Linked DNA regions of Homo sapiens: regions 1 and 3 are each linked to region 2. Evidence: fine-mapped expression QTL. A gene starts in region 2. Each other region holds a variant in brackets. All regions are shown on one strand. Distances are from middle to middle.

Region 1 (8,188 bases), 140 kb after region 2:
CAGACACTTCTCAAAAGAAGACATTTATGCAGCCAAAAAACACATGAAAAAATGCTCATCATCACTGGCCATCAGAGATATGCAAATCAAAACCACAATGAGATACCATCTCACACCAGTTAGAATGGCGATCATTAAAAAGTCAGGAAACAACAGGTGCTGGAGAGGATGTGGAGAAATAGGAACACTTTTACACTGTTGGTGGGACTGTAAACTTGTTCAACCATTGTGGAAGACAGTGTGGCGATTCCTCAGGGATCTAGAACTAGAAATACCATTTGATCCAGCCATCCCATTACTGGGTATATACCCAAAGGATGATAAATCATGCTGCTATAAAGACACATGCACACCTATGTTTATTGCGGCACTATTCACAATAGCAGAGACTTGGAACCAACCCAAATGTCTAACAATGATAGACTGGATTAAGAAAATGTGGCACATACACACCGTGGAATACTATGCAGCCATAAAAAAGGATGAGTTCATGTCCTTTGTAGGGACATGGATGAAGCTGGAAACCATCATTCTCAGCAAACTATCGCAAGGACAAAAAACCAAACACCGCATGTTCTCACTCATCGGTGGGAATCGAACAATGAGAACACATGGACACAGGAAGGGGAACATCACACTCTGGGGCCTGTTGTGGGGTGGGGGAAGGGGGAGGGATAGCATTAGGAGATATATGTAATGCTAAATGACGAGTTAGTGGGTACAGCACACCAGCATGGCACATGTATACATATGTAACTAACCTGCACATTGTGCACATGTACCCTAAAACTTAAAGTATAATAATAATAAAATAAAATAAAATAAAGAGAATTCTCAAGATGGTATCAAAGCGAAGACCTAATAAACATGTGTAGCAGGTTCAAAAAGCAACCAATCCTAATCGAAACACAAGTACAAAAGGTAAGAATAAACTCCTCCTAAATGGAATGTGCAGATTATCTTACAAATTTTACCATGTAGAAAGCTGTAATGAGAACTACTTTACAAAGAAGTTTGTAGTTTCCAAAAATATAAAAACCAGGCAAGTGAAAAAATAAAAAAATTATTAACTCCAAGAAAACAGAAATTGTATAAGAAATTGAATTATAGCATAAATTATATACTACATATACATATATACTATGCTTTAGCTTGTTTAAACTTTACATAGTATATACAGTATAAACTATACATAGTTTATATTATAATATATATATGGTACAAACTGTATGCACATATTATGACTAAGTAGTATAAATATATAGTATAAACTATATAGATAATACATATAGCACAAATTATATACATACTATATAGTATATATAATTATATATACTCAGTACAAACCATATATTATATATATTCCCACATACAAACTATGTACATATTTAACTACAAAATGGTTATAATAAATTGATGAGTATAGATTCAACCAAAATTTATGATGGTACTATTTCACAAAGAATGGATTCAAGAAAAGAGCTATAAAAAGGCCAAAATAAATAATGCTTTAAAAAGGCAATAGCAGTATTCGCACAGTGTTTTGATATTAGAAGTGGTGAAGATTTTGAAAATGTTTACCTGAGGGAGGTAGGAGTATTCAGAAGGACGAGGCAATTTGAGGTGGAGGGATTAAGAGAATATTGGTTTTTGCTGTAAGCCTCTTAGCATTATTTGACTTTTTAAACTTGTACTCGTTACTTTGATGTTTAAAAAAAAGGAAAATATTAATTTTTTTATAAAATGAAAGAAAGAAGGGAGGAAGGAATGAAGTTATTTCCTTAAAGTAGATTTATGTGCATGCTGTAATACTATAAAAATATTTATACAACCATAGTTCTAGAGACTACAACTGTAGAAAAAAAGCAACTGCCCCAACTCTTCATTTTTTACAACATTCACCTTTAGACTTAAGTATTCAAGTTTAACCCAAGTGATTATATTAAGTCCAAAAACACCGGTTCGTGATTAGTAGGAAGGAACTCTGGCCTGACAGGCTTTAGTTACAATTACTTCTCATACCCTCTCCTATGTGTTTCATGAGGGTTTGGGTCACATTCTTCCAAAGGGATCAAGGATATAGGACACATCTAACTGCTCTGGCAATCCTCACAGTGCTCTATACATAGCAGATAATTCAAAATTTTAATTACAGGTGCAAGAGGGCTCAGACTATTTAATGCGGACGGGAAGATGGAAATTAGTACCTTATTCATAGGGATACAAGAAGAGAATACATCATTCAGATAATATCATTGTAAGCATTCCCAAGGATAAATATGCATGTTCATTACTGTGTAATCCTAGGAGCAAAACAAACCCTCTGTTACATAACTCTTATTTTACCTTTCTTAATCTTTGAGTAATTAACATGGAAAAAAAAGTTGTTTTCTGGGCTACTCCACAGACAAATAGTTTCCCAGCAGAAAGAGACAAGCAAATAAGCCTGAGCATGTGATGGACTTGGAAAGCAATGAATCTTAACAAATTTGCAGTTGAATTATTGAACTGTTAAGACTGCAGAGTTAAACAGAAAAGATCTGGATGAATAAATGGGGTTTTGTTACCTTTGTTTCTTTGCTTATTTTATTTGTTGAGCTGTTTGTTGCCATGAGCACCAAAAATTATGACATTGCCATTCACATTGAATATTTTTATTTGGAAAATAAGGTTTCACTTACATAGTTGAGGTTCATCAACCACATGAACTGAGAGTGGGAGGTTTACACACACATACACCATAGATTTATTTGCTAAACCACTGATCCTTGTTTATTTTTAGATGAACTACAAAATGGTAGTTCTTCAGTTTAGCGAGTATTTTCTTTGACTCGTTCAACAAATATTTTTTGAGTATCTACCATGTGCTGCGTGCTACTACATACTATATGATCTAGGCCCTGCGCAAGGTGCTAGAAATAGGTGCAGGGAAAAACAGAGTATTTACAATCTAGTGGGTTGGTGGTACAGTTAAGCAATTAAACAAGCAATTATAATAAGACAAGTTAAATGCTTGGAACACATATAGCAGACACACTCAATATATCCTGGGGTTCATGGGTGGGGAGGGCTTAGTCAGCGAAGCTTCCCAATTGAAGTGACATTGAGTGGCACTTGAGGAATGACTAGGAGTTATTCATGCCAAGAAGGATGGAGAAGAGGCAATGAGGCTGAGGAAGGCCAGATACCAAGGAGAGCAGTGAGGAGGCCAGTGCAATAATGGAGAGGAGAGACAATGGTGGCCTGGACTTGGGAAATGGCAGTGGTGTTAGAGAAAAAGAGATGGGTCTGAGAGCCATTAAGGAGGCACAATTGTCAGGATTCCATGACTTACTGGATGTGAGAGATGAGGGAGAAGGAAACACAGCTGCAGGTTTCTGATTTGGACAACTGGGTGCATGGTGGGTGTTATTCACTGAGCCATCACTTACAAGGGGAGCAGGTTGAGGGGGGCAGATGATGAGTTCAGTTCTGAATATGTTCAGTTTGAGGTACATGGCAGGCATCGAACTGGAGATTTCTATCACGTAATTGGACTATAGGGTCTGAGCTGCAGATATAGATTTGGAAGATAATGATCTCAGAGCAGATAGTTGAAGCCATGGCTTTTGATCCGATTATCCAGAGAAAGTCTACAGACTGAGAAAAGCAGAGGTCAGAAAACAGACCCTGTAGTCTACTGACCTTTAGGGAACAAGCCAAGGGAAGAGATTAAAAAGAAGCCTGAGAGGCCCGACACAGTGGCTCATGCCTGTAATCCCAGCACTTTGGGAGGGTGAGGCAGGTAGATCACTTGAGGTCAGGAGTTCGAGATCAGCCTGGCCAATGTGGTGAAACCCCATCTCTACGTGCCACCATGCCCAACTTATTTACAAATTAAACTGGTGAAAGACAGACAAACAGGAGAGCAAAAGCATATGAATTGTATTTGATGCGTAGCTTTTATATGACACAGGGATCTTCCTACCAAAAAAGTGAAGAACGAAGAAGCAAACTCTCTCAGACGAGAGTTTATATACCGTTTTTAACAACAACAAGAAAGATAAATTGCAGAGATGGCACAAGACAAAGGAAGAAAGTTTTTAGGCTTCTAAGGGCTGCAAACTGGGGAGGTAAATATATAGAGAAAACTAATGGAAAATAAGGGCTATCTTATCAAGCTTTGTTTGTGCAGGTCCATCTTGGTGCCAACTTGCCGTCTTCCTCACAGTCATAAAATTTGCCCAAGAAAGGGGATTTATGGCAATCCTCAGTTCTCAGAAGTTTCTGCTTTTAGTCAGATAATGGGAACTCTAGAAGGACTTCATTTTGCATCTGTTGATTCTCCATTTTCTTCAGCTGAAAATGATCCCTGTGCCAAACTGGCATATTTTGGGTTGGCATAGTCTAATCCCCTTCAGTGGTAAAGTGTCACACACCACAGAGAGATCAATTCAATTCAAAAAATATTTATTGAGCACCAACTATGTGCCAGGCATGTGCTAGTGGGTAATGAGGATAGAGTAGTGAAAAACAGAAGCCCGGTCATTATCATCAAAAAAAGAGAAAAACGGCCATGAAATTTGGGATTGTGGAGAACATTTGCAATTTGCAGTAGCAGTTTCAATGGAGGGGAAGGTGAGAGGCTAGGTTATAGTGGACTGAGGTGAGACTCAGAAGTGAGGAAGGGCACTGGAAAATGGAGACAACTCTTTCAAGAAGTGTGACCATACAGGAGAAAAGAATAATGAACAGCAACTTTAAAGAAGATGGGGAGCCAAGGATGAGGGGTTATTTTGTTGACTTTGTTTGTTTCATATTATTTGAGAATATTGAACATGCTTATATGCAAAAATAAATGTGCCACAGAGAAAAACAGGTTAATACTACAGAAAAAAGGAGGTAGGCCGGGCCCTGTGGCTCACGCCTGTAATCCCAGAACTTTGGCAGGCCGAGGCAAGAGGATCACCTGAGGTCAGAA[G/A]TTCAAGACAAGCCTGGCCAACATGGAGAAACACCATCTTTACTAAAAATACAAAAACTAGCCAGGCATGATGGCAGGCACCTGTAATCCCAGCTACTTGAGAGGCTGAGGCAGAGAGAATTGCTTGAACCTGGGAGGCGGAGGTTGCAGTGAGTGGAGATCACGCCACTGTACTCCAGCCTGGGTGACAGAGCTAGACACCCTCTCAAAAAAAAAAGAAAGAAAGAAAGTGAAAAAGAAAGAAGTAGTTTATGAAGATGATTTCTGAGGGAAAACAATGAGACATGGGTAGGGAAATATGTAGTTCACCTTGCAAGTCTTACCTGTGTCATCTCCTCTCCTGTCCTAGCCTCATCCCAGCTCTGGAGGGAGCATTCAGCTATATAAACACCACCCCACTTCATTCCTGTAATCCCTGACCAAGAGCTTTAAATACCTAAACCCTAGGAATTTGGAAATAATTGGTAGAACTCTAATGCCTCAGAGCCAAAGCTTGGGCATTTCAAAAGGCTATCAAAAGCAGCCTTTCTTTCTCATCCTCACCAACCTCTGAACTAGAGAGCGATCAGATCACCTTTCTGCCCCCTTCTACCCAGCCTCTGGTAATGGTGGAGAAGTTCCTCTGTTTTTCTCAAATCCCCAGACACTAGTATAAAGAGAGGGGCAGGAGGGTGAGGAGAGACTCCTGCCTTATATCCCAGGTACCTGATCAGGTACACACACATACATACATACATACATACATACACACATACACACACACACACACATCTCTGCAAACTTATGCCTTGGGCCTGGATCCTACCCTATTCCTCATCCTGGCATAAGCCTGCTTTGCCTTGTTCCATCAGCATTTCTATTCTGCAATTTAAAATTATTTCCTATGCCAATCCTCCTGAAGGAGGCTCCCCTTGGCCCTCCAATACCAGCTTGGAGCTGGACCAAATTTCTGTCACTCCTGCTTGACTTCATCTACCTTCCTGTAATCTCCCCATCCCCAGCTCATGCTCTCCTGGGTTCACAACATGCCTTGAGGTCAGTGCTGTCAGCACCTCCCAAGGGATGTCAGGGTTGATAAGGAAATTTGCAAGGCCTTGACTCTGAAGTCAAAAACACAAAACATATTTAAGTGAAATCGCCTCCTTTTGCTAGCCTAAAATCTAGATTTTTACATGTTTTTGAGGAACACAAAAGTGTTTCTGTGGGCAGTATTGAGCAGGGACTTAATTAATTATTAACGGGTATAAAGGAAAGAACACTGAATCAACCACAATTCAGGTTCCCACTTGCTTTTTTTTTTTTTTTTTTTTGAGACAGTGTCTTGCTCTGTTGCCCAGGCTGGAGTGCAGTGGTATCTCGGCTCAGCACAACCTCTGCCTCCCATGTTCAAGTGATTCTCCTGCCTTAGCCTCCTGAGTAGCTGGGACTACAGGCGCAGGCCCCCAGGCCCAGCTAATTTTTGTATTTTTAGTAGAGACAGGGTTTCACTATGTTGGCCAGGCTGGTCTCCAACTTCTGACCTCGTAATCTGCCCACCTCAGCCTCCCAAAGTGCTGGGATTACAGGCATGAGCCACCACACCCGGCTAGCATTTCTTAATTCTGTGAGTTTTGGCAAATGTTCAAGGTCTCTTAGTCTTACTTTTCTTATCTGCGAAATGGGGATGATTATAGCTATGTTCTAAACACCTTATGAATGATCTCATGTAATCCTCACAACAACCTGGCAAGATAGGTTCTATTGTTAACAATACTTGATGATCAAGGTTTAAACCAGCTAGTCTTATTCCAGCGCCTGCCCCACTAACCACTGTGCTCTACTGAGCTAATAATATCTTCCCTCCCACTTTCAGGGATATCAAGAAGAGCACATGAAATAATGTGTAAGAAAACACTTGGTAGATTTGCTTAATGGGTACAAAGTTACAATTTGGTAAGACAATAAGAGTTCTAGAGATGGATGGTGGTGATGGTTGCCAACAATGTGAATGTACTTCATACTACTGAACTATATGCTTAAAAATGGTTAAAGTGGTAACTTTTATGTTATATGTATTGTACATTAAATTTGTAATTTCAAAAATACTTGATAATTATAAAGTGCTGTAGGAATGCAAACTATTAGAGATAGTTTTAATTCTTTTTCATTTATAAACTAGCAGGTTCCTCAAAAGATTTTATCTGACTCACTATTAATCCTCTGAATGTCTAGAAGAGATGATGGAAAAAGAGGACCCCTAGTGTAAAATGACAGCATCTGTACTCAGCAGCTTCAGTGGCGGAACAGAAATGAAGAGGGTAAAATGAGTCCAGGGCAGAGCCTGATTGCAAATACATTCCCTGGCCACCTTCTGCATTGTCCAGTGGGTCACTTCCAAGAGGAAAGATTATTGCTGAGGTTCAAGAAACCACATCAGTGTAAGCTGGGTTGCTAATCTGTTCATTTGTGTCCATACCTTTTCAGGCTGAGGCTGAGGGCATCACCAATGATTTTCAGTATCACATGTGAGTCGCTCCTTGCAGTGTGCACATTTCCCACCCTTGCCTCTACTGCAATGGGCCCTTATATAATTTATTATATTTATGTTATTATATTCCCTGTAATGGCCTTCCTTTTCCTTGTAATGTCTTTCCTTTCTCCTAAAAACAAATTTTAATAAAAAATATATATTCATTATAGAAAATTTAGAAAATATAAAAATCAATTGCCCTTGGCTAAGTATTAGATTTTGCCCAATAATTCAAAAAAAAAGTTTTCTGATTCTCTCCAGGGAATTTTTTAAAAGTGAAACTCTGTCTTATTTTAAGGAGGCATTAAGTTCCAAAAATTTCCTTAAAGGTTTATTATCTGGCACTCTGGTTGCATTCTCCCTTTAAAATAATGTCATGAGGGGATATTAGGTTTCCAGATCAGACCACAAAATCCTCCTTGATGTATAATGGAGCTGAACTCTAGCTTGGTGAAGCTAGAACACCAAGCCACCAGCCTCTAGGCTCCCACTAGGAGGCAGGGACTTTGCCAGCTATTTCTGAATTTTGGCATTGTCACCCATTGGACACCAAACAACAGTGATCTCTAACTTCAACTTGCCACAGACAGGAACTGACTTTGTGGGTACCTCCTCCCTCAAATAGCACTAACAAAAGCACCCAAGCTTTCCATAGTCGGAAGGAAGATGAAACTGCCTAGTTAAAGAAGGGGACAGTAACCTTTAGTGCAAAAAGGTCA
Region 2 (8,188 bases):
ACCAAAAAATAAAGAAATGAACACAAATTTGAAATAAAATATATTGATGGACAATAAGCATACGAAAAGCAAAATTCAACATCACTGGACATCAGAGAAATGTAAAATAAAACCACAGTGAAATACCACTTACACACCCACCAGAATGGCTAACATTGTAAATTACTGACAATACCAGAAGTTGGCAAGGATTTCAGGCAAATTGAATCTCACATATTGCTGGTAAGAACATAAAATAACACACTCACTTTATAAAACAGTTTGACACTTTCTTATACTGTTAAACATACCCCTACCATATGACAGCAATTTCACTCCTAAGCGTTTATCTAAAAGAAAACATATCCCAGCAAAGACTTAGAAGTGAATGTCCGTAACAGATTTATTCATAAACAATCCAAGTATCTATTAAGATGTAAACAAACAAATCAGGGTATATACATACAATGGAATACTACTCAGCAATAAAAAGGAATGTGTTTCTCATACACCTAATAACAAGGATGCATCTCAAGCAACATGCTGAGTGAAGGAAGTCAGACCCGAAAGAGTATTTACTCTATGATTTCATTCATATGAACTCCCACTGCAAAAAGGCTGCAGGAGAACAAGGTTGTAAACAAGGAGACCAATTAGGAGGATGTTGCAATAATACAGTTGGAAAATGGTGGTGGCTTAGACCAGAGTGGTTGCAAAAGAGGTGATGAGAAGTGGTTCCATTCTGGATATATCATGAAGGTGAAGCCAACAGAATTTCCTGAAGGATAGAATGCAGGATATCTCAGAAAAAGAGAAATCAAGGATGACTCCATGGTCCTGAATCTGAGCAAATAGAAAGATGAAACTGCTTTAACTGAGATGGTGAAGGTGGGTGGAGTAGGTTGGGGGATGATAACAGCAGTTGTGTTCAGTTTGAAACATCCATTAGATGTCCAAATGAAGATAGCAAGTTGGCAGCTGGATATATAGGAACAGTTCCAGGCTGGAGATATAAATTTGAGAGTTTTCACCCCATTTTTCTGGAAAAGTGGCTGGGAACAGGTAGAAAGAGTTTAAGAGAAACAGGAAAAACCATGTGCACAGATCTTCTTACTGTACAAAAAGTAAAGATCCATTTAAAAAAAATCTGGAGGTCATTAATGACTTGGGGGAAAACACTAGAATTTTGATAGTAAAAATATTTGATACAATTACCAAAACTCTGTATACTCAAGTAAGGTTTAGGGAGGGTTGTACACCTCCCCTCTGATCTTGTCCAATACTGTGTGGCTTGCTACCAAACTGGCAATGTCTAGGTAACCCACACTGGATACCCCAGAGATAAAGAGAGCAGCTTCCACCTGATAACCTCCCTCTCCTGCAGTCGCTACCACCCTCCCACCTTGAGTCAGCAGGAAAGGAAAGGAGCTTTTCCTCTCCTCCTGAGCTCTGCCTCCTGCTCAAGGACAGAGTCAAAGTTTTAACCCCTTCAGTTTGTAAGTTTTCTCATTCATGAAATTGTATTTGGCCATTTGCTTCTTAGAAGACAGCTGCCTTGGAAGCAAGCTATTAGTATGACTTTAGAGTTGGAGCCTTCAGAGGTAACTGCAATTTGTGTGGTATGATTTGATAAAAACAGAAAAAAAGATTTTTCTCTCCAGATTCCTGAAATTCCACTATGAAAGGTGAAAGTGAAATGCCCAACTTTGAATGAGCAGTATTGGAGATTTCACTAAGTCAATAAGTGAAGAAAAGAGAAGCTATAGATGAAAAAAGAAACCCATAAAAAGGGAGACTTTTTATTATATATTGACAAATTATAGTTGTATATATTAATAGGGTACAAGGTGTTATGATTTTTTAATACAATGTGTAATAATTAAACCAAGCTAATTAATATATCCATCACCTCAAATATTTGACATTTTTTGTGATGAGAACATTTGAAATTTACTCTCTTAGTGATAATGAAATATACAGTACTCAATTATCAGCTTTATTCACGACACCGTGCAATTGAACTTTAAAAAAATCAAACTTTTCCTCTCTTTTTTTTTTAGATGGAGTCTCACTCTGTCACTCAGAGGGATGATCTCAGCTCACTGCAACCTCTGCCTTCCGGGGTTCAAGCGATCATCCTGCCTCAGCCTCCCGAGTAGCTGGGATTACAGGCACGTGTCTAATTTTTGTATTTTTAGTAGAGATGGGGTTTCTCCATGTTGGCCAGGCTGGTCTTGAACTCCTGACCTCAGGTGATCTGCCCACCTTGGCTGCCCAAAGTGCTGGGATTACAGGCATGAGCCACTGCACCCAACCCTTATTCATCCTATCTAATTGAGGCTTACACTCTTTGACTGTTATCTCTCCATTCCCTGCAACCCTAGCCTCTGGTAACCACCATTCTACTCTCTGCTTCTATGAGTTCAATTGTTTTAAGTTACTTTCAGATACTTGAGAACATGTGGTATTTGTGTTTCTACATTTGGCTTATTTCACTGTGCATAATGTTTTCCACTTCCATCCATGGTGTCACAAATGACAGAATTTCTTTTTTAAGGCTAAATAGTATTCCACACATACACACAGACACATAAAATGGAATACTATTCTCTTTTAAATTTTGTATGCCTAATAATTCATGGTTAAAGGACAAGATAATAACTATTTTTGAGTATCCCGCTGTGGAGACACGATCTCCTTTGATCCTTGCAGCAATGTGTAAGGTAAGTGGCATCATCTTCCTTCTATTAATGGTAGAACTGAAGATCAAAGAGAGTGTCTAACTTGCTTAGGGCTACATAGCCAAGTGGTGAAGCTAAACTCAGTCTAGGCTTACTTGATAGTACACTAACATTAAATGTCTAGGAGTAAATATCTAAAACAAACTGTAAGTCTTCTCTATTTACCATACAAATTATTCAAGTGAACTGCCATTTTTGCCTGGCTTGAAAGATACTTTTCAGAAGAATGGGCTCATATACACATGCACGCGCGCACACACACACACACAATGGAATACTATTTAGCCTTAAAAACGCATATATATCTAAAATATATGTGTGTACATATTTTATATATATATGTGTTTATATATATAATATATATTATATTTGTATACACACACACATATATGCCACATTTTCTTTATCCATTTATCCCTTGATGGACACTTAGGTTGATTCCATATCTTGGCAATTGTGAATAGTGCTGCAATAAACATGAAAGTACAGACGTCTCTTCAACACACTGATTTCAAATCTTCCCAGTAAATACCCAGAAATGAGATTGCTGGATCATATGATAATTCTACTTTCAGTTTTTTGAGAAACCTCCATACAATTTTCCATCATGTTTGTACTAATTTACATTCCACCAACAGCATACAAGCATTCCCTTTTCTCCATTCTTGCCAACACTTGTTATCATAAAGGGAGGTTTGAGAGACCATAAAACAAACCCCACCTCACAATTTTGTTAGTGCAAGTTCTATTTGGCCTATTCCCAACACTAAGCACACAGTAGGTGGCAAATATTTGTTGAATGGATGAATTCTCATTTTTCTCCATTTGTGGAAGCAGACACCTCCTCAAAAAAAAAAAAAAATCCGAAAGAAAAGGTAAAGGAAACAGTTCTATGAATGGGGGTTAATTTACTCTCCTAGCATTCACTTATTGGGAAAAAAAGTAACAGCAGTTTCTAGAACCCTCTGGTCTCTGAGGGAGATGCTGTGTTCCCCTCCTCAGAGAAGAAGAAAACGCACTAGAGAGTGGGAGCATCCCCAAGGCTGAAGCGCATCCAGGACATCACATGTCAACGTGTCCTCTCTGGCGTGGGGTCCCCGCGAGTCTGGGAAACGAGGAGCTGGCAAGGGAGGGCAAGCGGGGGCGGCAAAGAGGGCCCCTGGAGCAGGGGGCGCGGACCTCGCTGCGCTGCGCGCTCTACCGCCGGGCTCGCAACGCTGGGCTCAGCGCTCGCGCCTCCCTCAGCTCTCTCCTCCGCCCCCCTTCGCCCTCCCCCTTTCCCTCCCTTTCTCCTCCTCCTCCTGCCGCCGCGGCCGCTGCCGGACTTCGCCAGATCAGACCCACGGGGCTGCCCTCCCCTGCGCACTCCCCTCGCTGCCCGGGCCCGGAGCGCAGCGCGGCCGCACAGGTAGGAGCCCCCAACGGGGGGTCGCCCCGAGCGAGCCCAGTACTCACTGGGCCGCGCGCGGGAGAGTGAGGTGGGGTGAGCTGAGGGGTGTTGAGTACCCGAGAACTGCCCTGGACTGTGCAGGGTGTCTCGGGCAGAGAGGGAGGTGGAGGTGTGCAGCCTCGGAATGCGATCTGTCAGCAAGTGCGAGTACTCGGGTGACATCTGTTGGGATGGGCATGTGTGTGCGCGCCGACAACCAGCCGGCAGGGCTTTGCCCATAAACGTGGTTTTGAAAGTTTAGGGGACCAGTGTGCGAGATTTAAGCCGCACCTGGATTCCATAGGAGCTGGTTAGAAGCTGGGACGCTGAGCAGCTCCAGGGGACCGCCGCGTTAGCTTGCTGTTAAGAAAGGGGACCTCATCTCCCTGCCGGGCCAGGCCGCCCGCCCGAAACTGGTACCTTGGGCTGCGGTGCGATCCCTGGTTCCGGTCCTAGGCAGCCTGAAACCGAAGGTAGCGTGTCGGGGACCCAGACTGATAAGACAAAAGAGAATCAGTCGCTTTGGGCTGCCCCTCCACACAACCTGGGACTTTTAAACAAAGCTGTGCGCAGAGAAAGGCGTGGAAATGCCACTTTGAGAGTTTGTGCTGGGGGATGTGAGAAGCTCTGAGACATGTGAGAAGGTCTAGTATTCTACTAGAACTGGAAGATTGCTCTCCGAGTTTTGTTTTGTTATTTTGTTTAAAAAATAAAAAGCTTGAGGCCAAGGCAATTCATATTGGCTCACAGGTATTTTTGCTGTGCTGTGCAAGGAACTCTGCTAGCTCAAGGTGAGTATACTGGGAAAGCCTTAACGTTCTAGAGAACAGAGTTTTGCAGCCCCACCTCCATCCCCCGGGGTGTGGGACTGGGGGGCAGGAAATGCACCGTCCCCTTTGAAATGGATTACTGTTTTTTCCTTTCGACCCCCTCTTTCTGCAGCCTGCTTTGTAGGTGCAGTATAAAATGCACGCTGAATGTCTTTTGTATGTAAACAGCGTAGCAGGATGGAGTAACGTGAAATGCAATTCTACAGCAGTTTTTACGTCTTTGCTGCCTCGTTCGTTGGCTACCGAGAAGGTTCAGGAGGGGGAGGGGAGATGAGAAAGCAGATTGGAAGTTGAGTATGGTGGAGCCTCAGCCTCTCCCACCCTCCTTTCCTCGCTTGTGCTCACTGCTAAAGTTTTGTTACTTTCCCCGCAGCAGATACTAAACATTAGTTTGTCCTGTATTTTCTTTGAGATTCACAATGTTGAAAGCCCTTTTCCTAACTATGCTGACTCTGGCGCTGGTCAAGTCACAGGACACCGAAGAAACCATCACGTACACGGTAAGGGGTGATGGAATTTGAAATAAGTACGGTTCAGCGGGATTCTGTGACAAAAAAAGACTTTACACACCCCTGCCAGTGTATTTGGGCTATACTCTGCTGAGGGTGATAAATTAAACAACACTTCATTCATGCTTCATATCTAAGATTCGTTGTAAATTGCCCCCTTGATCCTTTCAAAAGTTCATTGGGCTCACCACCTAAGATAGGAACCAACATGTAATCATTTGTGCAGGGCTAAAAATGGGATCCGTTCAAAAACTAAAACCAAAGAAAGTTACATGTTTCCAAAACATTCAACAAATTAATGGGTGTAAGGAACTGGAAAACCTGGACTCCTACCACATGCAGATAAAACCAATACGTGCAGAATAAGACTCAAGTCAAGTAAGAACGTTAAACACCATAAAGACACATGGCCTTCTTTGTGTACATGACATGCATTCTCAAGTAAGTGGCCTTTATTGAATTTATAAAGGCTATATATTCATTCTTTTTGTATAACTTGATAATTCTAATAAATAAAGGCAGACAACAGTTTATGTGTTACCAGGATGCATATTGGCTAAAGTGGTTTTAAAACGTAATGTGTGCAACTCCGTTTTGCATTTTCTAATTAGCGTCTCTGATATTTCCAAGTAATATTTGATTAGTTAGTTGCATAGGTGTAACCAATGTTTAATAAAATATTAAAAAGATCACCTGACCCCTCCCACTGCTACAAATAGTTGTGGTGAGAACAGAGAAGGACAGTACTGACTTCACTTCTGGTGAGTTTGTTTGCACCTCTGTTCTGTGTTTTCTTGTCTTTAATCAGTGTTAGGCAAATGACATTTGTCCTGGATTGGAATATGAAAAGCACATTTTTCTACTGCTCCCAGTTTAAAATTAAGTAATCCTACTCGAAAGAATGTGAAAAATTTTTGAAAAGAAAACTCTTAAAAATGAACTAATGTCAATTACTGATAATAAACATTATCTCACTTTTTGGTACCACATTATCCCTAGAATGTTAGTATTCATCTGGCAAATGTTCCTTTCTGTTGTTCAGATCCACTATAAATAAAATAGCTTAATACAAATATTTTGTTAACTTCATGTTAAATGCAGTTGCTTCCTCTGCTGAAGATAAATTAAGCAAGAAAAATGAAGGCATGTGCTGTTTATCTTAAAATGAAAATGTTTTGTTATTCAGACTAAACTTACTGCCTTCTCAGGGAGCTAAAATTAAATTCACTACCCACTTTTATAATCATCTCATAAAAGATTTTACTTCTTTTCCAGTTGCTTATCTTCTATGCCCTTCCCTTTGCTAATCACCTAAATCTTCCTCATTTTTACCAGAGAAGGTTCCCTGTGGCTTAAACATGATAGTTTTAAGACCACTAACTAGGGTTCATTATTATTGTAACAAATTTTCCAGATATGTTACCCTTTTGTGCTAAGATTGGGCCTATTCTCCTTTAAATTTTGTATGCCTAATAATTCATGGTTAAAGGACAAGATAATAACTATTTCTGAGTATCCCGCTGTGGAGACACGATCTCCTTTGATCCTTGCGGCAATGTGTAAGGTAAGTGGCATCATCTTCCTTCCACTAATGGTAGAACTGAAGATCAGAGAGAGTGTCTAACTTGCTTAGGGCTACATAGCCAAGTGGTGAAGCTAAACTCAGTCTAGGCTTACTTAATAGTACACTGACATTAAATGTCTAGAAGTAAATACCTAAAACAAATTGCAAGTCTTCTCTATTTACCATACAAATTATTCAAGTGAACTGCCATTTTTGCCTGGCTTGAAAGATACTTTTCAGAAGAATGGGCTCGTATCCACATAATAGCCTCATAGTCCTCTTCCATATTAAAGATGGTGTCCATTCAGCTGTTTACTCAACAACTATCTGCATAAGCAATTCTCATCACTATTAAAAGAATTTGTTTGTTTACTAAGAAAATTCAGTCTCCTCTTGGAGAATTTAGCCTGGGAAGACAGTGTTGAAAACTACAAAGTTCCTAAGCAAGGACAAATGATACTATTATACAGATTATACAAATTGCCAAGGAAATAGAAAAGCAAGGAGGTGATTAATGTTGGTGCCAGCATATTAGAGGAGACAGAACTCTGTGCTGGTTCTTGAAGGAAGTGATGACCTTGGTTGGATTGATCTAGAAAGGCTGAAGAGGCACCTGAGTCAGAGAGTGGCATAATCAAAAGCTAGAGCTGAAAGCACCTGAGACCAATCCAGGTGGTGATAAGGTCAGATCAGCTGGAACTGGGTAGTGGGAAGAACCCAGAGATGGTGATGATGAGAGATCTGCAGGTCACTGTGAGGTCTCAGAGAGAGGAGCAACATAACCAAGAGCACAAGAAAGATCATGGGGTCTGTATGCAGCATGTAGAGATGCGGGGCCTTGCCTACTCATGGGCCAGCAAAAGCCTTTCTTAGTAGACATGGTAGAAATGGACACAAAGTCAGCAGAGATGGAAGGAAAATAAGTGGAGCATTCAGCACTGATGTTAAAGTTGGAATCCTGGGTTTCGAAAAAGGTAGTGGTACCTTTAACACTGTTTGGGAAACAAGAAAAAAATTAGTCTGAGAGACAAAGTGAATTTAGTTCTCGCTCCAGTAAGTTTCAGACATCAGTAAAATATCTAAATGGATCTCTGGGCTTCCATTCAGCTATTTCCTTGTCAAGCATCCATTGTGTA
Region 3 (8,188 bases), 200 kb after region 2:
TAATACAAGCCAGTTTTAGTTGGGTTTTCCAGGACTTGCAAAGGATGCTGTTACAGAATTTCTTTGAGGGGGACTCAGTGTCCCCAAATGTGACTTCCCAGCTACGCTGGTCTCTGCTCATTTGCTCATGTAGCAGCCCTTTAGCCTTGCACTCTTATTCTCACCCATCCTTCATGGCACCATTAGAGCCTCACCTTTTCCAGTCAGGCAACCAGTGCAAGAGGGTCTCTAGGTAATCTAAAGCCATACATTACCTTTGCTGTCACTTTGATTCATGTGGCACTTGTCATATGCTGCCCTATCTTTAATGAGTGTACGTTTATCTAGAGTGTCACCACCTTGAAAGCAGGGAACTGTGTGTGTGTGTGTGTGTGTGTGTGTGTGTGTGTGTGTGTGAGAGAGAGAGAGAGAGATAGGATCATACTCCATCATCCAGGCTGGAGTGCAGTGGATGATCATGGCTCACTGCAGCCTCGACCTCTTGGGTTCAAGCAATCCTCCCACCTCAGCCTCCTGAGTAGCCAAGACTACAGGTATATACCACCAAGCCCAGCTAATTTTTTGTATATTTTGTACAGACAGGGTTTTACCCTGTTGTGCAGGCTGGTCTCGAATTCCTAGACTCAAGTGATCCAGCTGCCTCAGCCTCCCTAAGTGTTAGGATTACAGGTGTGCGCCACTGTACCTGGCCAGGACCATTTTTTATATACTCTTTCATTCCTATGGTATTTGCCATGGAAGGTACTAATTGAATACTGACTGTTTGATTGAATCTAATGGTCTATCAGTCAGGATGTCTTAGCATCCCGGCAGGTCAGATGCCAACACATCTGCTGGGGCAAAAGGAAAACTCAGAAGAAAAGAGGAGGTTACCTTTTTTTTTTGGCCCATGTTTCCTTAATTTCATCACTTGGATATGCAATAATTTTTAAAATGCTACTTGGTTCCTGATAATATCATCCCATAAGACTTTCTGCATATTTGAAAAGGATGCAAAGCTATACATAAATATTGGTTATTATATTTATATACAGAGAGAGAGGCATATGTAATGTCTATTCTACACAACCTGAATTCAGTAGAGTGCAAGTATAAAGTATCCTTTTTTCCCCCAATTACTACCTTAACCATGCTCCACTGAACCTCCCTTTCTCACCGCTTAACAACATTCTGCGCAGCTCTCTCACAGCTTTGAAATGAAGAAGTCCAATCCTCCCTTCCTGTAGATAGCTCAGGCATTTGTGGCCAGGACCTGAAATGGAAAAGGAGTACAGTCTCCACCTTCATTCCCTCTTGAGTTGTGGGCTTTGGGGGTGGTGGCTTGTAGTAGATGCAGAGATAGAAAGGAACAGTGTCTCATTCAGTGCTGCAGCTGTGGTCTTCTCTTGGCTGGTGATGTCGATTAGTCTCTGTGTGGTGGGTGTCCCAACACTGGCTCTTCCATGGGCTACATTGGGGACTTGCAGGAGTCTCCCCAGGGCAGAGTTTCCTGCTGTGGGAGCACCCTCCACCCAGCTCCTCTACTACACCCTCAGTTGCTTCCCCTGGCATTCCCCCCAACTCCTTTTGAGTAGAGTACTGGCAGGTCAAATCAAGTCCGGCTACTTCCATGGTGGCTTCTTGACCCCTGGAATACCCATACAGCACTGTCATAGCACCAGATGGGTGCAGCCTGCTCCACTGCCTCACTTCTCTCTGCTTCATTATCTCAATTCTCCATTCCCTTACTCTCACAGGCACTGAGGTCAGATCAGCTGGTGTGAGCTAAGAAATAAGATGTCATTCTTCTCATTTAATCCCACTCTCTGTAGATGGTCCTCAGGGCACCCAGTCTTTGGCTTCAAAGCAGGAGCCACTGTACTTTTCACCAAAGACTTGACACTCTCATCACATGCCTGTCTTCCCTGTCTAGTCAAAAGTGTAGATGGATTGGGCATAAGAAGTGGTTGAGTCTCAGACGATGATTAGGGGAATGCCCAGTCAGTTTGCCTGACTCTTACTAAACCTGGAGGAGGTACTTGGCCTGCAATACTCAGAATGTGAGATTCTTGGTGCCTCTTTGTCCTTAGCTTTGGATCCAAGTCACCAATTGCCCACTCCACATTCTGAGACACATCTCAGAGAAAAGGAAGCTAGTGTGGTGAAAAGAACTGGATTCTTGCCTCTGCTCATCAGTGTCAGCTAGCACAGTACTACTATGGGAGTCTTTAATTCTCCATGTCCATAATATCTCATCTGTAAAATGAGAATACTATAATACTATTTACTTAACCAATCAACATCATACATACACAATGTGATACTATCCTAAATACATAAAATCATATTGATTTTATTTAATATTTAGGTTGTGTCTATAGAAGAGCATCCAGGAAAAAAAGTCAGTTATGCCAGTTTCTTAGCACAGATTTATAATGCTAGCTTGTCACATATTATGTAAGAGGTAATAAGAATATTCTGCGGATTAAATGTGATCATGCATGAGGAAGGCTTGGCATCGAGTAAGTGCTCAATTAATATTATCCATCATTATTATGTTTATCTCTGTGACCTTAGGTAAGTCATTTAAGTCCTCTGAGTCTCCACTTCCTCATTTTAAATTGAGGGTAATAATAGAGTTCTCAGGATTCTATGAAATCATGTTATCTGGAAGCAATTGTAAATTTCTTTGTAAATGTTAGATATTATCTATGAAACAAGGACAATGAACTTTTAAAGTATTTTCCTCTTCTAAAATGCTATGTGTTTACTAATTGGTGTTACAAAGAAAGAAAAGAAAAATGTTTCTTTTTCAGTAGAGTGTGTTGGAGTTATTAAAAGATAAAATCAGCAAACACTGCCTCATTTTATCCATGAACTCACAAATTTTCACAGATAGTAAGAGACTGGTCTTTCTTTCTACCATACTTTCAATTCTTATCTGTTCTCCAAGATGTTTTATGTCCTCAATGTATATACATTTCAAGCACCATCATATAACCTAAAACAGAAAGGAAATTATTTAAGATACAATGGAAAACTACAGAATCAATCAAAAAAACTTAGTTATAGGGGTTACTTATTCTAATTCTTGGCATCCAAGACCTTGGTGGAAAACTTTCTTTCATCCAACCTTTAAATATGAATATTAATCATATCACAAAGATATTAGCTCCATTTTGGAAATTCCAAATTTTACCATATTCCTTTCTTGTTGAATAAGGTATAGAGTATATTCAAAAACTAGGGTTTGGGTGGGTTCAGTGGCCCAGGCTTGTAATCCCAACATTTTGGGAGGCCAAGACTGGAGGATCACTTGATCCCAGGAGTTCAAGACAAGCCTGGGTAACATAGCAAGATCCGGTCTTTATTAATAAATAAATAAATATAAATAAGAAAAATTTTAAAGTTGACCATTTATAATTCTATATATGTAATGTGATACCAAGTGCTATTATGGTCTTTGAATGCA[T/A]TGTGAAATAATTGAGTCAACCCAGCTAACATATACATCACCCCACATATTTAACATTTCTTGGGGTGAGATCATTTGCAATGTACACTGTTAGCAATTTTGAAATGTACAATGTTCTATTATTAACTATATTCATCATGATGCGCAATAGATCTCAAAAATAAACATATTCCTGCAGTGTAAAAAAGAAGAAAAAAGAATAACACACTACTGTTACAGGCAACAAAATGGATGAATAACTTTGAGTAAAAGAAGCCAAGCATAAACGGTTACAACACAGTGTATGGCTTCATTTGTAAAGGCTTAAAACCAGAAAAACGAGTCTCTGACGACAGAAGTCAGAATAAAGGTTTTCTTCCTGGGGTGATATCTGGAAAGGCATAGGGGGAGGGGCTTCTAAATACTGGGCATGTTCTATTTTTTTATCTTACTGTTGATTACATTAGGCCTATTTCATTTGTGAACATCCCTCAAAATGCTGATGATTTAAGCACTCTTTTGTATGTACACTATACATCAGTAAAAAGCTTACTTTATTAAAAAAAGAAAAAATTTAAAACTAAGGTTTGTTCTTAAAATAATCTATGTAATTTACATTCATTGGCTAGTCTGTCAAAAAATATCTTGACTACCTCAGCACAATGAAATTTGAAAGAAACATAAATCTAAGTTTCTATTGTCACAACATATCATAATTATTTATTGCAATCTTTACAAAATGGAAACAAACTCTACAATGTCTGCCCTTAAGAAATAAAGTAGTAGTTAATGTATTTTGGCTAGTAAAGACATTTAGACTCACAATTATTTCTAATTATTAAGCTTTGAAACGGGAGATTGTCTTGGAAACAATCAATTTTAAGTTTCAAAGTTAGTGCCTCAGTGCAAATTTAATTAGCAAGTGGCTCCATTTATCTATAAAGCAAAATATCTTTTGAACAACCTTCTCTACATATTTTTATGGACCTTTGCAGTTGAGAAGGGCTTTGTCATGCACTTTTTTATTTAATGTGTGAGATTCTTTGGGAGAGAAGCAGAGTAACTAAGGAAAATGACGCTCAGTCACTTGCTCGAGATCAGAGGAACTGGTAAAGCAAAAAGCGGGACGCGGTTTTCTTTAGTTCCAGAACAGGAATCCTTCCGCCATAACAGGCTGCTTCAGACATCCATGGAGTTATCTGAAATCCTGAGAGAACACCTCATCTATCCCCGGACATCCACCAGTTAAAATCACGCCCAAAATAAATAAATAATAAAATAAAATCATGTCCAGTGCGGAAAAAATGCTTACAAAATTCTTCATTTACTTATTCACTCATTCAAAAATGATTTGTTGCGGGCACTCTATGTGTCCAGCATTGTGCTGGCACTTGGCATCCGGTTGTGAGTAAATCAGACACAGCTCCTACTCTCCCAGAGCTTGCAGTTCAGCCACGGACAGAGACAACTCACACCATCACATAGGTAAATGTATAATTACAGACCATGAGGAACGCTGTCCAGAGTGAGCACAGCACGCTTTGAAAGCGTCTAGCAGGGAGACCTCACCTTATCTGAAGCATCCGGGTGGGCTGGGATGGGAGGAAAGGGTAGGGAAAGAAGGAGCAACCAAAGCCAGAGAAAGCCGTGCCCGGCCAAGAGAATCGCATCTAAAGAAGCCCTGAGGCAGCAAGGAAAATTGAACGTGAGTTATGATAGCAATTTTATATAAGCAGAGGGGGGAAAGTCTAGCAGGAAATACTCCAAAACATTAATGATGCTTTCTTCTGGAGAAGGACTGGTGATGTTCATTTCCTTGTTTATGCTTTATTGAATATTGCAGATTTTCTGCAATAAAAGTATAAGCTTTGTGATCTGGAGGGGAAAAGAATAAAAAATCTGGCTCAAAAGACCCCTGTGTGAGAAAAGGAGGGAAAATAGAACCCTCTCCCAACCACTCCAGATATCCAGGAGCTGGAGTGTGAAGCTGGAAGTAAACAGTACAAGAACATAATTCACTGTGATTATTTTTTATTTTTTATTTTTTTATTTTATTTTTATTATTTCATTTTATTTATTTATTTATTTATTTATTTATTTATTGCTTAGGCTGGAGCACAGTGGCAACAATCATAGCTCACTGCAGCCTTGAAAACCGGGGCCCAAGCAATGCTCCCATCTTGACCTCCCAATGTCCTGGGATTACAGGCATAAGCCACCAGTCCCAGCCCACTCTGACAATTTAAAAGGGTCCTGAATACTCAAAAGGTACAAAGCTTTGCAAGAAAGGGAACTAATGTGTATCTAGCCCTATCATGTGGCTAGAACTACCCTATAACTACAGCATTTCCTGGAACAGTAATATACAGATAATGGTGCCTTATTTCCACAATTTACCTTCTGATTGTATTCCTTTCTCTCACACTAACTCTGTTAGATGATTATTATCACCCATATTTTACAAATGAGAAAGAAAGTGAAATTTAAAGAGAGGTTAAGTAACTTGCTCACAGTCAGTCCTATTAGGCGGGAGAGCTGGGATTAAAAGAAAATCCCAGGCTAGGGTGCAATGGCACAATCTCGGCTCACTGCAACCTCCACCCCCTACCCCAATAGGTTCAAGCGATTCTCCTGCCTCAGCCTCCCAAGTAGCTGGGATTACAAGCACTTGCCATCATGCCTGGCTAATCTTTTATATTTTTAGTAGAGATGGGGTTTCACCATGTTGGCAAGGTTGGTCTCAAACTCCAGATCTCAGGTGATCCACCCACCTCGGCCTCCCAAAGTGCAAGGATTACAGGCGTGAACCACTGCACCTGGCCATAAATTCTTAACTGACTCTCATGGTGCCGTCTATATGTGAATGGTCTATGGACTGGTGCCCCTGCTGAGACTGGTGAAAGACAAGTTCTCTTTAGAAACTTGAAGCAGGTAGAAAACCACCTTGACCCTGACTGCCATTTGCCTAAGGGTCTGAGACCTAGCCTGGAGGGAGTCTGTTCCTGATTCTTAGAGAGGGCACCAACCGATAAAACCTGAGCTCTGATTGCCCAAAAGCAGTTTGCCCTGTAAAAACCAAGTATCTAGCTTAGTGGGTCTCAAACGGTAGCATTCATCAGAATCACTCAGAGAAATTGTTCAAATACAGACCAATAGGTCCACCCTCAGAAGTTCTAATTCAATAGGTCTGGGGTGGGGCCCAAGAATTTGCATTCTAACAAGTTCCCAGGTGATGCTGACGTTGCTTGGTGGGGGGGCTGCCACTTTGAGAACCATTCGCATAGTCTAATGTAAGGCAGGACTCACAAGAGTGTCAGCGCCTTGCACCACATTCTGAAACTGAGAGTTTATCTCACCCTGGCCAACCCACCCCACCTCCACCTTCTATAAAGTGGTTCTAGAGTAGGTAAATAATGGAGAAGAAACCGTGCCTCTCAAACCTGCGATGAACCAGGACCAGAAATGTTTGCTGGAAAACAAAAACAATTGATTTGGGGGATGGTGGAAGTTTATTTTTTATTTTTTATTTTTGGAGGGAGTTTTGATTGCTGTCATTTGGGTAATTATTTTTAATATGAACCCCAAAGCTTTAAAATGTTGTTGCTACATTAATCCTAAAATGTTAGTTAAGTTCACCCACAAATATAAAACTTAAAATTCCATTTTACAGTTTGAGTTACAAAGGAGGTCGCAAAAACCTGAAGAGGTGAATTAAGCAACACCTGAGCGCCCTCTAGTGGGAAATGAATTCTCCTAGTGTCCAAAGGCTGCCAGTATGCTGAACAATAAATGAGATTTCCATTATTTTCTTTTAACTCTTTGAAGCTGGCGAATGGTTTGTGCATTAAAAACAAATATGAAGAAAAATGGAAGAAAGCTAAATTTTAGATCGTGTAAATATCTGTTACTCTTCGAATTTTCACCCACTAGTTTAAGCATCCATTGATGATTCTTGCTTGCCTCAATCAATTATTTATGATGGCAGAAAGTATCTTTACTTACATTATAGAATCCAAAGCACTTTAACAATCTATTAATTTATTAATATAGAATTCTAGTGAACTCTTGAGATTACCTCAAGTTGTAAATATTATGCTGGTCTCGTTTGAAAACACATAAGACTTTTGTAGAAATCACTGGTCTTGTGGCTGGGCACGGTGGCTCATGCCTGTAATTCCAGCACTTTGGGAGGCCAAAGAGGGTGGATCACCTGAGGTCAGGAGTTCGAGACCAGCCTGGCCAACATAGCGAAACTCTGTCTCTACTAAAATACAAAAAGGTAGCCAGTGTGGTGGCGGGCACCTGTAATCGCAGCTACTCAGGAGACTGAAGCAGGAGAATCACTTGAACTTGGAAGGCGGAGGGTGCAGTGAACCAAGATCGTGCCATTGCACACCAGCCTGGGCAACAAGAGCAAAACTCCATCTCAAAAAAAAAAAAAAAAGAAAAGAAAAGAAAGAAAGAAAAAGAAAGAACTGGCCTTGTTTCCATTTACTTGACATTTCGTAAAGCTAACTTTTGCACTTTGTAAAGTGTCTTGACCCACTACATGGATCTCTCTGGATTCAAATTAGTACAGCACGTACCTAAATGTTCAGAGCCAGATCTAGGGGTTCAGTATAAACCTGTTTTTCTATTAGACGCCTTTATTTCTATAGAGGCAGTACCATCTTCTCAATCCCTTGTAATCCAACCATCTTTAACCTTTGACCTGAGCCACACTCTCAAAGGCAATAATTTCCCGCTCTTCTTAGTCAC

Alleles and levels. Alleles are on the strand shown, and positions count from the first base shown. SD is a standard deviation of normalised expression in the study named.
For the expression in thyroid of the gene that starts at base 4,057 in region 2, allele G in region 1 goes with a lower level than allele A (small effect, 0.39 SD a copy in GTEx).
For the expression in fibroblasts of the gene that starts at base 4,057 in region 2, T is the high allele of the variant in region 3 and A is the other (small effect, 0.26 SD a copy in GTEx).

Evidence for each region. PIP is the estimated chance that this variant, and not a neighbour inherited with it, causes the effect.
Region 1: its variant is fine-mapped to the expression of EFEMP1 in thyroid (GTEx, PIP above 0.99).
Region 3: its variant is fine-mapped to the expression of EFEMP1 in fibroblasts (GTEx, PIP 0.98).

The regions. Positions count from the first base shown.
Region 1 is chr2:55,780,745-55,788,932 of GRCh38, reverse strand. No RefSeq gene overlaps it. Among named protein-coding and RNA genes, the nearest start is that of PNPT1, 91 kb to the right of the region's middle. The variant G/A (reference allele first, on the strand shown) is at 4,961.
Region 2 is chr2:55,919,651-55,927,838 of GRCh38, reverse strand. It overlaps EFEMP1 (EGF containing fibulin extracellular matrix protein 1), which reads left to right and starts at 4,057. Exons shown (of 12, transcript NM_001039348.3): 1 at 4,057-4,128; 2 at 4,900-4,940; 3 at 5,392-5,479. The coding sequence starts at 5,399. RefSeq lists an enhancer at 3,998-4,497.
Region 3 is chr2:55,717,345-55,725,532 of GRCh38, reverse strand. No RefSeq gene overlaps it. Among named protein-coding and RNA genes, the nearest start is that of PNPT1, 28 kb to the right of the region's middle. RefSeq lists an enhancer at 1,458-1,959. The variant T/A (reference allele first, on the strand shown) is at 3,452.